Regions from separate parts of the Homo sapiens genome. Here region 2 is linked to region 1. The links come from fine-mapping of genetic effects on gene expression. Tissue or cell type: whole blood. Region 1 holds a variant in brackets; the other region holds the start of a gene. All regions are shown on one strand. Distances are from middle to middle.

Region 1 (8,178 bases):
ACCCTGAGAGAGAGAGAATTCAGAGTGGGCTGCTTGTAAGGACGAGACAGCAAAGACTGGCACTAGGGAGACTCTTTTAAAGGGAGCCTTACATGATGGTTCCTAAGTAGGTGGGAAGAGGCGTTGCCAGGAAGCATGTTCTGGGTGGTCCTCTGGGTGCACAGCTGTAGTAGCTGTACATGCTTGTTCATTTGTCACTGTCTCATTAGCATCTTACATCTCTACCCAGGGATGTGTTTTTTACTATTACAATGAACAAAGAGTCAGTCGGAGGACAGGTAAAATCAAAATGTGCTTGCTCCCTACAGGGAAAATCCCCTACTGAAGATAGCTGTGCTTGAATGAGCTCAATTACAATGAGAATGCTGAGGCTTATGGTGTTGACTGTATGGTCACCATAGTTGCTGTGTCCAGAGAACCTGGTCATTTTTTTTTTTTTTTTTTTTTTGCTACCTATCCTGCCTCAGTTTTAGTTATCTATTTCTTCTTCTTTTTTTTTTTTTTAAACTTTTCATTGTTACATGGCCTTCCAATGAAATACCTATTTCTTTTTTTTTTTTTTTTTTTTTTTTTTTTTGAGATAGAGAGCGTCTCACTCTGTCGCCCAGGCTGGAGAGCAGTGGTGCAATCTCAGCTCACTGCAACCTCTGCCTCCCAGGTTCAAGCGATTCTCCTGCTCAGCCTCCTGAGTAGCTGGGATTACAGGTGCGTGCCACCACACCCGGCTAATGTTTTTGTATTTTTAGTAGACATGGGCTCTCACCATGTTAGCCAGGCTGGTCTTAAACTTCTGATTTCAGGTGATCTGCCCGCCTCAGCCTCCCAAAGTGCTGGGATACACCACCGCCCCTGGCCTGTTTCTTCTTAAGTAAACTTTAGTAGCTTCTGTCTTTCAAGGAATTTGTAGATTTCATTTTAATACTCAAATTTATTGGCATTAAATATTTCCTGACTATCCTTTTAATGCCTGTAGCATCTATAGTGATGTTCTTTCTTTCATCCCTCATATTGGTATTTTGTATTGTCATCTTCTCATCCTCCTTCTCCTCCTCCTCTCCTCCTCCTTCCCTGTCAGTCTAATTATTAATTTTATTGACCTTATCAAAGAACCAGCTTTTGGTTTCATTGATTTTTCTCTTTTCAATGTTATTGATTTCTGCTGTTATATTAGTCTTGGGTTTAAATTGCTCTTCTTTTTATGGTTTCTTAATGTAGAAGCTCATTTAGAACATTGATTTGAGACTATTCTTTAAGCACTTAATGCTATAAATTTCACTTAATGCTATAAATGGAGCACTGTTTTAGCTTCATTCCACAAATCTTTATATGTTGTATTTTCATTTTTATTCAATACCAATTACTTTTTAATTTCCTTTGCAACTTCCTCTTTGACCCAGGTTATTTAAAAGCTTGTTGTTTAATTTTAAAATGTTTTGGGGCTCTCATATCTTTCTCTTATTGTTTTTTAGTTTGATTTCATTATGATCAAATCAAATAACATATATATATAGATATATAGATATATAGATATATATTTTTTTGAGGTGGAATTTTGCTCTTGTCGCCCAGGCTGGAGTGCAATGGCATGATCTCGGCTCACTGCAACCTCTGCCTCCCGGGTTCAAGTGATTCTCCTGCCTCAGCCCCCCAAGTAGCTGGGATTACAGGCACATGCCACCACACCCAGCTAATTTTTGTATTTTTAGTAGAGACAGGGTTTCACCATGTTGGCCAGGCTGGTCTTGAACTCTTGACCTCAGGTGATCCACATGCCTCAGCCTCCCAAAGTGCTGGGATTACAGGCATGAGCCACCACGCCCGGCCCATATATTTTTTAAGATTTCAGTTTTTAAAAATGTATTATGGCTTGTTTTATGGTCCGGGATGTGGTCTGTGTTGCTGAGTGTTCCGTGTGCACTTGAAAAGGATGTGTATTCTGCTGTTGTTGAGTGGAGTATTCTATAAATGTCAAGTAGGTCAACTTAATTGATAGTATTGTTCAGGTCTTCTCTATTCTTACTGATTTTCTGACCACTTGTTCTACTGGCTACTGAGAAAGGAATGTTAACATCTCCAACTGTAATTGTGGATTTATCTATTTCTCATTCAGTTCTGTCAGCTTTTGTTTCACATTTTTGAAATTATTTTGTTATTTTAAATAGTCACATTTTCTTTTATTTATTTATTTGTTTATTTTCTTTGCAATGGAAGTCTAACTATGTTGCCCAGAGTGCCCTCAAACTCCTGGGCTCAAGTGATCCTCCTCAGCCTCCTAGACTTTAGCTAAGACTAAAATAGTCATATTTTCTTAGTGAACTGAGTCTTCCTTTTATAATTATATAATGCCCATCATTATTCCTGATAATATTCCTTGTTCTGAAGTCTACCTTGTCTAATAAATAGCCAATCCTACTTTCTTTTGATAAGTGTTTGCATACAGTATCTTTTCCCATCCTTTCAATTTAACCTGTCTAAATCTTTATATTTAACATGGGTTTCTTGTTGACAGCATATAGTTGTGCTTTCATTTTTTTTAATCCCATCTGAAAATCTTTGTTTTTTAGTAGAGGTGTTTATGGCATTTATATTTAATTAAATTATTACCTGTTTTGTCTCCTTTGGTTTTTGTTCCTCTCTTCCCTGTTTTTCTACCTCCTTTTGAAGTATTTGAATATTTTTAGTATTATTTTTTAATTCATGAATTAGTTTATATTTTATGTGTGTGTGTGTGTTTGTGTTTAATGGTTGCTCTGGGGCATTATAATATACATACCTATCTCAGCATCTATTTAGAGTTGATATTGTAATTCTTTAAGTAAAATGTACCTTTACAACCATGTAAATTTCTTGATACTTTCTCAATTTTGTTATAATTGTCACGTTTTTGGTTTTGTTTTTTTTTTTTGAGGCAGAGTCTTGCTCTGTCGCCCAGGCTGAAGTGCAATGGTATGATCTTGGCTCACTGCAACCTCTGCCTCCTGGGTTCAAGCAGTTCTCATGCCTAGAGACAGGGTTTCACCATGTTGGCCAGGCTGGTCTTGCCTGGCCTCAAGCAATCCGCCCACCTCAGCCTCCCAAAGTGCTGGCATTACAGGTGTGAGCCACCACACCTGGCCTATCACATGTATTATATCTACATATATTAAAAACCATACCAGACAATGTGACAACTTTTGCTTTAAATGGTCATTGAGATTTTAAAGATCTTAAGGGAAAAAGTGTTGATTATGTTTATCCAGATATTTACCATTTCTGTCACTCTTTCTTTTTTACTGAAGATACAAGTTTTCTTCTCAGCTCACTTCTTTTCAACCTGAAGAACTTCCAATGTAGCCTTTCTTCCTGACCACAAAGTTTCCTACTTTCCTTCATCTGAAAATGTCTTTATTTTACTTTCATTTCTGAAGGATAGTTTCACTAGACATACCTATCTCAGCACTTTTTTTTTTTGAGACAGAGTCTCGCTCTGTCGCCCAGACTGGAGTGCAGTGGTGTGATCTCGGCTCACTGCAACCTGTGCCTCCCGGGTTCAAGCAGTTCTCTGCTTCAGCCTCCTGAGTAGCTGGGATTACAGGCGCCTGTCACCATACCCAGCTAATTTTTTTGTATTTTTAGTAGAGACAGGGTTTCACCATCTTGGCCAGGCTTGTCTTGAATTCCTGACCTCGTGATCCACCCGCCTTAGCCTCCCCAAGTGCTGGGATTACAGGCGTGAGCCACCGCGCCCGGCCCTTCTTTCAGCACTTTAAGGATGATACTCCGGTGGCTTTTGGCCTCCCTAGTGTCTGTTGGGGAATCCATGGTCACTGGAGTCATTATTTTCCTGTGTTAATATGTCACATTTCTCTTAACTACTCTCCTGAATTTTTTTAGTGTTTGGTTTTCAAGTTTTATTATGATATGTATGAGGGTGGTTTTCTTTTAATTTAACCTGTTTGGGTTTCATTGAGCTTTTGATAATTTTCCCATAAGTTCCTGAAACCTTCCTCTTTTTCATCTTTTTTTCTCTCTATCATTCATATTATATAATCTTTATTAATCAGTCTTCAAATGAATGACCCTCCTCTGTGATCACCATTCCACTATTGTTTTATTTTAATTTCAGACATTGTATTGTTTAGTTTTAAATTTTCTAATTTTTTAAAAAATAGTTTTTCTGGGCTGTGAACTTTCATCTTTCCATACTTGAAATATTAAAGGGCTTTACCTCATGGAGTACAGTTATAATAGCTGCTTTAAAGTTTCTTTCTGCCAGTCCCAACATCTGTGTCATCCCGGAGCTGACATCTATTGATTGCCTTTTTCTTTGAAAATTGGTTCTATTTCCTGATTCTTTGTATGTAGAGTAATTTTTTATTGTTTCCTTGGCATTTTATTCTATTTATTTATTTATTTATTTATTTATTTATTTATTTATTCTATTTATTTATTTAGAGACAGGGTCTTGCTCTGTTGCCCAGGATGGAGTGCAGTGGTGCAGTCACAGCTCACTGCAGCCTCAACCTCCTGGGCTAAAGTGATCCTCCCACTTCAGCCTCCTGAGTAGCTGAGACTACAGGTGCACTGGCACCACACCCAGCTAGTTTTTTGTATTAATATTTTCTGTAGAGACGGG[T/G]TTTTGCCATGTTGCCCAGGTTGGTCTCGAACTCCTGAGCTCAGGTGATCCACCCAGCCTCCCAAAGTGCTGGGATTACAGGTGTGAGCCACCGTGCCTGGCTATCCCTGACATTTCAGTGTTATGTTCTGTAGACTGTGGGTCCGTATTATAATCTTTTGAAGAATGTAGATGTTTTTTGTTTAACAGGAAACCCTGCAGACCACAGGTTCTGTCTGATCTTCTGTGGGTAGTGGTTTCAGTGTTAGTTTAGTTGGGTCTTTGCTTTTTTTGTTTTTTGCTATACTGCTTGGCACCTGTCTCACTCATACTCAGCTCAGGGGTGAATCTCTGTGTTCACACACACAGTTAGGAATTTCCCTTTTCCTGCGCTCTTCTCTTTGTTTTTGAGACGGAGTCTCGCTCTGTCCCTCAGGCTGGAAGTTCAATGGTATGATCTCGGCTCACTGCAACCTACGCCGCCTGAGTTCAAGTGATTCTCATGCCTCCTTCCCAAGGAGCTGGGATAACTGGCATGTGCCACCACACCCGGCTGATTTTTGTATTTTTAGTAGAGACAGGGTTTCACCATGTTGCCCAAGGCTGGTCTTGAACTCCTGACCTCAAGTGATCCACCTTTCTCGGCCTCCCAAAGTGCTGGGATTACAGGCGTGAGCCACTCCGCCTGGCCTTCTGTGCCCTTCTCTTTGGGATTCATCCCATACTCACTGGACTGCACAGGCCTCTTTTCCTGGTTCTCTGGCCAGAAACACAAGGTTTCTTACAGAGTTTTAGCCAGCTTTTCTACTGCACTACTGGGCAGGTCTGGAATTGGTGCAAAGCCAGGAGAGCAAAAGGGTGAAAAAAAAAATAGGAAACTTATCCCCTGTACCAGTCTTGTCTGCAAGTTTTGACTCCCCTTCGTGCCACCTGCTTTTGTTTGGTTTTCAGAGTCCTCAAGTAGCTGCTTTCATATTTGATGCAGAGTTTTCACTGTAATTATCAGGAGACACAGCCTGTCTTGGCTTACCTCACCATGCCAGAACTCCCTGGAATGCTCTCTTTTTGATCACAGGCGGGCCTTTCCCCCCATCAGATGCTCTTAAGAGCCCTCTGTCAATGCAGGTTTTGGGTTATTAGGCACCTGTGAAGGTGTGGGTTTCTTGGGAAGGAACTGTCTGAGGAACTCTAAGGTCCTTAGAGAGAAGTGTCATGGATCTCTTCTCCCTCCTGTTATAAAAGACAGAAACCCAATCCCAGCTGGCTTAAGAAGGAAAGAACACTTGCTGGCGTCTGACCAGGAGGGCAGGAGTGTTGCCAGGGATTCTTCTTCTCATCTCTGGACATTGCTTCCCTGTGCTGAGTTCATCTCAGGCAGTCCCCTCCAGGGGCTGACAAGGTGACTCACCTTGGCCTTCATCCCTCCAGTTTAACAACCCCAGAGGACAGCAGGTAGCTTTTCTTCAGTAGTTCCAGCAAACGTCCCAAAGCTCACACTGGACCAGTGAGGGTCACGTGCTTATCTCTGAATCAGTTCCTGAGGCTAAGGGCATGGAATATGCTGCTTGGCCAGCCTGGATCAGATGCTCAGCCCAGGGCCAGCGGGGGTAGGGATGTCAGTTCACCTGGACCTCAGGGGCTGACAAGGGGGATACTAAAGTATGCATTCTCGGCCAGGCGCGGTGGCACATGCCTGTAATCCCTGCACTTTGGGAGGCCCAGGCAGGCAGATCACTTGAGGTCAGGAGTTTGAGACCAGCCTGGCCAACATGGTGAAACCCCATCTCTACTAAAAATACAAAAATTAGCCAGGTGTGGTGGTGCACACTTGTAATGCCAGCTACTTGGAAGGCTTAGGCAGGAGAATTGCTTGATTCCATCTCAAAAAAAAAAAAAAAAAAAAGTGCATTTTCAGCCCGGCTAGTGTTACCCTAAAGGAAGCAAAATAACTGAAATATGACAATGGTTTGTCAGATTGACGATATTGTCTGTTGGACTAGTATTTCATGGGGGGAGAGGGATTAGGGAAAAATGTCTAAAAGAACTTCTGTAGGGACTGTAATTTTTTAAAAAGGTTGAGAAACACTTCCCTGCAGGAAACTGAGGTGCTGTTACCAGAAGAGGGGGGTGGATACCAAGCTGCTGAAAACAGCACCTGCCCACTCTGGGGGAGTTGGAAGCTGAAACCAGCGGCAGGCAGGAGTAGGCCAGTGTGGAGCACCTGCTCAGAGGGGCTTGGTGGGGAGCCGCGTAGGGTGCTGGCCGCTGCAAAGCTGAGCCTCTTCTTTGGTTTCTCTGGCCCGGGGGTTCTGCGTTGAAGATTATACTGTAGGAAGCATGGAGAGGACCCTGACCCAGCTACTCTCTGCTGTCTCTGCTGCAGGTGAAGAACGAGGTGGAGAAGCTCCCCCGACAGCAGCGGAAGGAAAGCATGAAGCAGAAGATGGAGGAGCACACGCAGAAAAAGCAGCTTCTTGTGAGTCCCTGGCCTCAGCTGGGGAGCGCAGGGGCTGGTGCGAGACCTGGAATGGTGACCAGGCCCCCTCTCTGCCTTTGCCCAATCCCTGCCCCTCAAATACCCCGTTCTGAATACCTAAATCTGGCCTCATCCTTCATGGCCCCATTATCCCCTCCTCCATGCAGCCTTCCTCGATTGCCCTGCCTCCATCTGGAAGTAAGCTCTTCCATCTCTGGATACCCCAACACTTTACATTGACCACCTCCCAAACCCTTAGCACCTCCTACCTTGTTTTAGGGTTATTTATTTGTAAGTCACATCTCCTTGACCAACCCAGTATATTCCCCTGCCCACTTGGCATCTTTTAAGTCTGAAGGACATCAAACTTGTGATGTCCCAGACCTGGTCCTGTTATGCTCTGAGGGGGTGCCATTTTCCTTCCTTTCTGGCCCATCATTCCTGACGCCTCCTTTCCCTCCAGTCCTTCGTCACCTCCAGAAGCATGGTATGTATATTTCTTATCTCCTGTCTCTGGATCTATGAACTCGTCACCATCTCCATGATCCCCCAGCCACTGTCCAGTGGCCTCCCAGCGAGGCTTCCTGTAGCTGTTTTTCCCCTGCAGTTTCTTCTCTCCTGCCTGCGTGTGATCAATGTGAATTCCAAGTCTGATAATAGCACCCTTCCCCCCACAGCCCTGTGCCTTAAAACCCTTCAGTGGCTCCCACATTGTCCCTAAGATAAGCGCCGCCTCTTTGCTGTGCCCTGGCCGGCCTCCCCAGCCTTCTTTTCATCCTTTGCCGGAATGCTCCTATTTTCCCCCACGAGGGGGTCTTTGTGTGTTCTGCTTCCTCAGCCCCCAAAGCAAAGAATTTTTGAGTCCATATTTAGAAATGCTTTGTATATTACCTGCTTCAGCATTCATAGCTTACTATGGTAGGAGCTGTTCATTTTCCCATTCGCAGAAGAGGAAACAAAGGCTGAGAGAGGTAACATTGCTGAGTTCACATTCAGGGAGGGGGTCGAGGCCTCAAGCTTGTGTTCTCTCCGGGACACCCTATGACCTGTCTGTCCCATTACAGCACGATTAGGAAGAGAACGCAGGACTGGTGAGGGCGGGGCACAC
Region 2 (8,178 bases), 120 kb before region 1:
AGCTATCCTCCCACCTCCACCTCCTCATAGCTGGGACTATGCCCATGTGCTACCACGTTGTATTTTTTGTAGAGATAGGATCTTGCTACATTGCCAAGGCTGGTCTTGAACTCCTGGCCTCAAGCTATCCTCCCACCACAGCCTTCCAAAGTGTTGGGATTACAGGTGTGAGCCATGGTGCCCAGCCCCTCCTCTGTCTTAATTTTCTACTCCCTACTCACTCCCAAATAAACCACTTACACTCAAATCCTTGCCTCAGGGTCAGTCTCTAAGGGAATCCAACCTAAGAATACTATAAAATGCTTTTTCTGTGACTATTAAGACTATGTGATTTTTCTCCTTTACTCTGCCAATGCAGTGCTATTACAGTAGATTTTCTGATGTAGAACCATTCTTTTATTCCTGGATAAACCTTTTGTGGTTACGATATTTTTATTCACCTCTGGTTTGATCTTGCTAGCATTTGTATTTTCCCTGTCTTTTTAAGAACTGAAATTAGGCCGGGCGTGATGGCTCACACATGTAATCCCAGTACTTTGGGAGGCTGAGGCGGGCGGATCACGAGGTCAAGAGATTGAGACCATCCTGGCCAACATGGTGAAACCTCATCTCCACTAAAAATACAAAAATTAGCCGGGCGTGGTGGCACGTTCCTGTAGTCCCAGCTACTTGGGAGGCTGAAGCGGGAGAATCGCTTGAATCTGGGAGGTGGAGGTTGCAGTGAGGTGAGATCACACCATTGCACTCCAGCCTGGCGACACAGCAAGACTCTCTCTGTCAAAAAAAAAAAAAAAAAAAAATGAAATGAAATTAGTCTACAATTTTCTTTCTCTCTCTCTCTTTCCTCTCCTTCCCTTCCTTTTTAAGACAGGGTCTCACTGGAGACCAGGCTGGTGCAGCGGTGAGATCACTGTTCACTGCAGCCTCGGCCTCCTGGGCTCAAGGAATCCTCCTGCCTCAACCTCCTGAGTAGCTGGGACCACTGGTGTGCACCACCACGCCTGGCTAATTTTTTGACTTTTTGTAGAAACAGGGTCTCACTTTATAGCTCTGGCTGGTATGGAACTCCTGGGCTCAAGTGATCCTCCCACCTCAGCCTCCCAAAGTGCTGGAATTACAGGTGTAAGCCACTGTGCCTGGCTTACAATTTTCTTTTACTGTCCTTATCTAGTAATAGTAAAACTCATCTTATAAAATAAATTGGCAGATTTCCTTCATTTTCTATCTTTTAAAATAATTTATATAAAGAAAGAAATTATTTGTAAAACCACACAGACTGATGTCTTTCACCAAGAACAAGCTTTTGATTCTTGATTTTTGTGGTTGTTGTTTTTTGGGTTTTTGTTTGTTTGTTTTTGTTTAGAGACAGAGTCTCACTGTGTTGCCCAGGCTCGAGTGCAGTGGTGTGATCTCGGCTCACTGCAACCTCCGTCTCCTAGGTTGAAGGGATTCTTGTGCCTGAGTCTCATGAGTAGTTGGGACCACAGGCACGCACCACCACACCCGACTAATTTTTGTATTTTTAGTAGAGACAGAGTTTCACCATGTTGCCCAGGCTGGTCTCGAACTCCTGACCTCAGGTGATTCACCCGCCTCAGCCTCCCAACGTGCTGGGATTACAGGCATGAGCCACTGTGCCCGGCCTGATTCTTGATTTGATTTCTTTATTGGTTACTAGTTTATTTAGGTTTTTATTTCTTATTGAAATTATCTTTTACCTATCATTTATATTTTCTTCTCAATAATTACCCATTTTATGTAAATTAAAACATTTATTCACATAAATTTGTCTAAAATATCACTTTATGATTATCAAAATTTCTACAGTATCTAATCTGATGTTCTCTTTTCATTTTTTATTTCTTCCAGTGAATATTTCTTTCTTGCACCAATTTTTTTTTTTTCTTTTCTTTTTTTTTTTGAGACGGAGTCTTGCTCTGTTGCTCAGGCTAGATGGAGTGCAATGGTACGATCTCGGCTCACTGCAACCTCCATCTTCTGGGTTCAAGTGATTCTTCTGCCTCAGCCTCCCAAGTAGCTTGGGTTACAGGCGTGCACCACCCCGCCCGGCTAAGTTTTGTATTTTTCGTAGAGCTGGGGTTTTGCCATGTTGGCCAGGCTGGTCTTGAACTCCTAACCTCAGGTGATCCACCCAGCTTGGCCTCCCAAAATGCTGGGATTACAGGTGTGAGCCACCGTGCCCGACCCTTTTTTTCTTTTTCTTTGACTAGTCTTGTCTATTAGTTATTTCAAAGAAGTAGCTTTGATTCTATTGAACCTCAATGTATTTCTTACAATGCTATTGAGGTATAATTTACACATAAAATTCATCCATTTACAAAAATGAAAGTTTAAAATTCAATTATTTTTGGCAAATTTACCAAATTATGAAATTGTCACCATTGTGCAGTTTTAGGACATTTTCATCACCCCAATTAGACTGTTTATTGTTCATGTACAGTTAATTCCCATTTCACACCCAGCTCCAGGCAACCATTAATCTACTTTCTGTCTGTATGGATTTGCCTTTTCCAGACATTTCATATAAATGGAAATTTATAGAACACAGGGCCTTTTGTGTCTGGCTTCTTTGACTTAGTGTTATTGAATGAATGAACCTCTCCGTTTTTCTTTCCCTTCCTTCCTCCCTCCCTCCCTTCCTTCCTTCCCTCCCTCCCTCCCTCTTTCTCTCTCCTTCTCTTCCTTTCCTTTTTCTTTCTCTCTTTCTTCCTTTCCTTTCCCTTTCTCTTTCTTTCTTTCTCTCTTTCTCTCTTTCCTTTCTCTCTTTCTTCCTTTCCTTTCCCTTTCTCTTTCTTTCTTTCTCTCTTTCTCTCTTTCCTTTCTCTCTCTCTTTCTCTCGCTTGCTTGCTTTTCTGGAGCTCTCAGAGCTGGTCAGAGCCCTCCAGGCCTACAGCTTTCGTGGAGTCAGAGCCTTCATCTCCTAGTATGGAAGCAACCCTCTTGGTCTCCCCACCCGCTTCGTACAGTTGGCCAAATGGTCTGAAACAAATGAAAGACCTGCCTTTCAGCATGTTTTGGGAGGTTCAGACAGCGCCTGACTCAATGAGAACGGTCAGCGACGAGCGGCGTTTCCTTCTTTTAAAGACCCTCTACAATTCCAGGCACTCCTGCAGCTGTGGAAACATTCCGAACGGCTTAGCAACCAGGACACCCTCTGCGCCGACCACTACCAGCATCGCAGGCTTCTTGAGCTGGCTTTCCCAGTGGAAAACCATGCTTGGTGTTTGCACACTGTTCAAAGGATGTTTTCGAACAAAGCACCGAGGAAGGGGCGAAAACACCTCAACACAGCCGTTCTCTGGGGTTGGAGCTATTGAACTGTGACATTTGCGAAGACTCAACTTGTTTATGACACGGTCCAAATAATAACCCTTGCAGACTGCCCGCCCCCCCCCCCCACCCCCAGCACTCTCCTTAGATTCAGGTAAAAGCATGTTATAACCGTCTATAGGACAAACAGGCAACAGTAGCAGTGAAGTGACTCAAGTAGCCAGGATCGAGAATGAAGGTGCTCAAAGAAGACTTTAGTTTGATCTGTATGTAGTGCGCTCATCTTTTTTGAAACTAGGAAATTAAAAATTAGAATAAAGTTTTTATTTAATATGCAAATACATCCGCAAACCCATCAGGAAACATAAGAGAAATCAGTGCCAAAGGAGCTCTTTCTCCCAGCCCTCTAATCCTGGCAGGTTTGTGGATCGTGGACGGGGAGCCCCTGGAAAGGACCGCGCCGGGAAGCCGGGCCCTGCAGGGACTGGCCGCGGCTGCACCGGCGTTGCCCGTCGCACACTAGGAGGCAGCACCGCGCCGAGGAACCCGCAGCAGACGGGCAGCCAGCGTGTGTGCCTGGGGCGAGTGCCCTCGCCTGCCGGCGTCCCCATCGGAAAAGTGGGGGCGAGGGCAGCCTAGCGGAATAGCTGCGGGAGGATTAAATGAACGAGTGCAGGTTCACCTTCTGGGCGCTGACAACGATCCGTGGGCTCTCGCGAAATGCCAAGTCGCCGTCCCGCTTGCTCCCATAAAAGTTTTGGGAGCCACGCGGCGCGGCGGGCGGGCTCCTGAGTCCATGAGCGGTCCCACCGAGCGGTCCCCGAAGCTTCCCCAAAGCCCAGCCCGCGGCTCGCGGAGCGTGGTGTGGGGGGACTACAGTTTCCAGAGTGCCCTGCGGCGACGGGCGGAGCCGGGGAGCGCCCGCAGCCAATTAGGGGGTCCCGGGGCTCTGCCGGGGAGCGGCGGGTGGAGCCGGGCCGGTGGGCGGGCGCGGGGACGGTCCCCTGGAACGGGTCCGAGGCTCTCGCAGGCAGGGCTGGGCCGGGCAGGAGCTGCGAGGCCGGCACAAGGGAGGCGGCCCTGGGGACCTGACAGGGCGGGGGCGGGGGCGGGCACGCCGCCGCCTGCGCGGTTCCGGGTGCTCCCGGCGCGGCGCTGCCCAGGGCACACTTGACCGAGGTCGGGCTGCGGGGAAAGGCGGGTCTGGGGAGAACCCCGAGAGACGCGGCGTCCTCCAACTCCTCCTCCTTCTCCTCGCGGCCGCCGAAGCCACAGCCCGAGCCCGAGCCCGAGCCCGAGCCGGCGCCACCGCGCCCCCGGCCATGGCTTTTGCCAATTTCCGCCGCATCCTGCGCCTGTCTACCTTCGAGAAGAGAAAGTCCCGCGAATATGAGCACGTCCGCCGCGACCTGGACCCCAACGAGGTGTGGGAGATCGTGGGCGAGCTGGGCGACGGCGCCTTCGGCAAGGTTTACAAGGTGAGGGCGCTGAGGTGGGTGGCCGGACGCGCGTCGAGGGGCTCCGGAAGGAAGGGATGCCTGAGCCGGACCCGGCCAGCCTGGCTCCGGCTCCGAGGGCTGCCCGGCGCTGAATTCGGGGTCCCTGGCCCTCATCCCGATGACTCTTGTTTTTTGGGGGGAACATCACTCGGCCCGGCCGAGTCCCTGCGCTCTGGGCGCCCCCTCCGGGCACGGTTGCCGCCCCCACCCTAGCCCTGTTTCGGAGCACTTCCTGTGTGTCCTGCACTGCGCTCGGCGCCGCACGGGGAGACAAAGGGGCGTTGACAGGACCTCAGCATCCGAGAGGGCCACTCGAGGGACCTTCCAGGGACGTTCCGTAAAACGGCGATACGGGCACACTTTTTTTTTTAAGAGAGACCACAGATGCTGTGGGAATATCGAGGCGATGTGGACCGAGAAACTCGGCTGCGCTTGGACGGGTTGGGAGCTAGGGACACATCTGAAGATGAGCCAGAGACAGGGAAGTGGGGTGGGCGAGGGGTGGCCCATGGACTGAGAGGTGGGGCTTGGAAAGGTGGGTTGGGGCTGGTCAGAGGGGGAGGTCAGGATCTGGTGAATGCTGAGCCTGGGGGAACAGATTTGATTCCGTCGGTCTGAGTCACAGCTGGGGAGTCTCCCAGCCTGCAGTCACCTCTCCCCTAGAGGAAGACGCGGCAGAGAGCTTTTGTGGAGTGGGTGGGGCAGAGCTGATTGAGTCTAGAGAAGTGTGGCAGCAGGACGTTGGTTTCTGCTCCTGGGAGCTAATTCTGAGGTGGTGAGTTGTTTTAGGGAGCCAACACCTACAGCTTGACTCCCCCCTTTCCCCTAAGAAAATTTTTACTGGGAGACGCCCACTTGTTAAATTGGTGTATACCTCCAGGAGAGCACCTCTCTTCTAAGCCACTATCCTCCTCCTTGGGGCTCCTGTAGCTTGTAGGGCACTCTGACCCTAGGATTGCCGTTCTATGAGGCTGGACCACAGAGAAGGCTTCTCCAGGCCTTCTCCTCTGACTTGGAAGTGGTCTATCGCCTAGTTACCGAAGTAGTTCCTAGATGACCGGTGTTATAATAGCATCATTTGGGAGCTTGTCAGAAGTGAACAATCTCATGCCCAGCCCCGACCTGCTGAATTAGAGTCTACGTTTTAATAAGATCCCAGGTGATTCCTAAGCAAATAGGTTTGAGAAGTACTGCCCTAGAGGCTTGGAGTGGTGGCGTTTTTTCTTTTTTCTTTTCTTTTTTTTGAGACAGGGTTTCCCTCTGTTGCTCAGTCTGGAGTGCAGTGGCCCGATCTCGGCTCACTGCAACCTCTGCCTCCTGGGCTCAAGCAATTCTCCTGCCTCAGCCTTCGGAGTAGCTAGGTCTACAGGTGCACACCACAGCCCGGCTAATTTTTGTATTTTTTGTAGACTTGGGGTTTCGCCACGTAGCCCAGGCTTGTCATGAACTCCTGAGCTCATGAAATCAGCTCGTTTCAGCCTCCCAAAGTGTTGGGATTACAGCGGTGAGCCACCCTGCCTGACCTGGAGCGGTGGCAATTTTGAGACCAACCAGGCCCACTCAGTGTCTTTTTTTATTTTTATTTTTTGTGAGACGGAGTCTCACTCTATTGCCCAAGCTGGAGTGCGGTGGTTTGATCTCGGCCCTCACTGCAACCTCCACTTCCTGGGTTCAAGCAATTCTCCTACCTCAGCCTCCCAAGTAGCTGGGATTGCAGGCACACACCACCATGCCTGGCTAATTTTTGTTTTTTTAGTAGAGACGGGGTTTCACCATGTTGTCTAAGCTGGTCTCGAACTCCTGACCTCAGTTGATCCACCCACCTCGGCCTCCCAAAGTGTTGGGATTACAGGCGTGAGCCACTGTGCCTGGCCTGGTGCCTGTTTTGTTTCCTTGCCACCTCCCCTCTGAGCCCACACTTCCTGTTATGGGGTAGGGAGAGGTCTTGTGATCCGAGAGGCAGTGCTTTTGGACTGCCCCGACTTGCTGTCCTCCTTTGCCTGAGGGCCTTGCCCATATTTGAGGGCAGCCAGCTCACCCTGTCCTCAGCACGTCTTTTCTTTACTCTCCTCAGAGCTGCATCTTCTTCCTGGTGGCACCAGAGAACGATCCTCAGCCTTGCAACTGTCTCTGGACACTGCCAGTGTCCTTGACTGCCTTAGACAGAGCCTGCTCCTGCAGCTGTGCTCTGACTACTGTGAGGGCAGCTGGACCCCTGTGGTCAGCTCACCACAGGACCCACTTTCTCCAGAAGGTTCAGTTGGTGTTTTTAGCGTATGCTAAACATATGGGTTTTTTGGGCCGGGCGTGGTGGCTCACGCCTGTAATCCTAGCACTTTGGGAGGCTGAAGCAGGCAGATCATGAGGTCAGGAAATTCAGACCATACTGGCCAACATGGTGAAACCCTGTCTCTACTAAAAATACAGAAATTAGCCGGGCATGGTGATGCATGCCCGTAATCCCAGCGTCTCAGGAGGCTGAGGCAAGAGAAACGTTTGAACCAGGGAGGTGGAGGGTGCAGTGAGCTGAGATAGCGCCACTGCACTCCAGCCTGGCGACAGAGCGAGACTCTGTCTCAAAAACAAAACAAAACAAAACAAACATATGGGCTTTTTTTTTTCTCCGTTAGGGGCTTTCAATTGCATTCTTGTCCCCTTCCCCGCAGTGTGTCCTGGCTTCACAGGGTTCATCTTCCTTTAAACTTAAACGCAGAACTTTGCTTTCATGCTGGTAAGATTTCCCCTTGTCATTTTCAGTTGTGTTTCCTCCTGCTTTAGTCCCTTAAGACTCCCCTGCTACTCTGAAAGTTTCATACAAAGGAACTCATCCGATCCACAATCGATACTGTCTCCTCTTGGTTCTCCAAAGCACGTGGAAAGTCAGTTTTTAAAAAAGTGACTCCAGGGCCAGGTGCTGTGGCTCACGCCTGTAATCCTAGCACTTCAGGAGGCCGAGGCGGGTGGATCACTTGAGGTTAGGAGTTTGAGACCAGCTGGGGCAACATGGTGAAACCCCACCTCTACTAAAAATAAAAAAATAAAAAAATTAGCCGGGTGTGGTGGCGCGTGCCCTATAATCCCAGCTACTCGGGAGGCTGAGGCAGGAGAATTGCTTGAACCCGTGAGGCGGAGGTTGCTGTGGGCTGAGATCATGCCGCTGCACTCGAGTCTGGGGGACAGAGGGAGACTCTGTCTCAAAAACAACAACAATAAAAACAAAAAGTGACTTTAATTCTCAAAGTTGTGAGCTGTCTCCACCACAGCCCTCTCCGCCTACCTCCGAATCCACCATTTTCTCTTAATTAAGGGTGAGCCAGACCAAGAGAGCTGTGTGATTGCTGATAGACCTGAACAATCTATTACCTACTTGGCCTTAGCATGTACCCCT

What was found. PIP is the estimated chance that this variant, and not a neighbour inherited with it, causes the effect.
Region 2: STK10 starts here. The variant in region 1 is fine-mapped to the expression of STK10 in whole blood (TOPMed, PIP 0.99).

What each region holds. Positions count from the first base shown.
Region 1 is chr5:172,063,612-172,071,789 of GRCh38, reverse strand. STK10 (serine/threonine kinase 10) reads left to right here. Exons shown (of 19, transcript NM_005990.4): 13 at 6,978-7,070. Among named protein-coding and RNA genes, the nearest start is that of FBXW11, 61 kb to the right of the region's middle. RefSeq lists an enhancer at 4,972-5,021. The variant T/G (reference allele first, on the strand shown) is at 4,616.
Region 2 is chr5:172,184,478-172,192,655 of GRCh38, reverse strand. STK10 (serine/threonine kinase 10) reads left to right here and starts at 4,432. Exons shown (of 19, transcript NM_005990.4): 1 at 4,432-4,769. The coding sequence starts at 4,614. RefSeq lists enhancers at 3,672-4,447, 5,500-5,579, 6,240-6,289, 6,560-6,609, 7,650-7,699 and silencers at 4,120-4,479, 4,780-4,829, 4,960-5,039.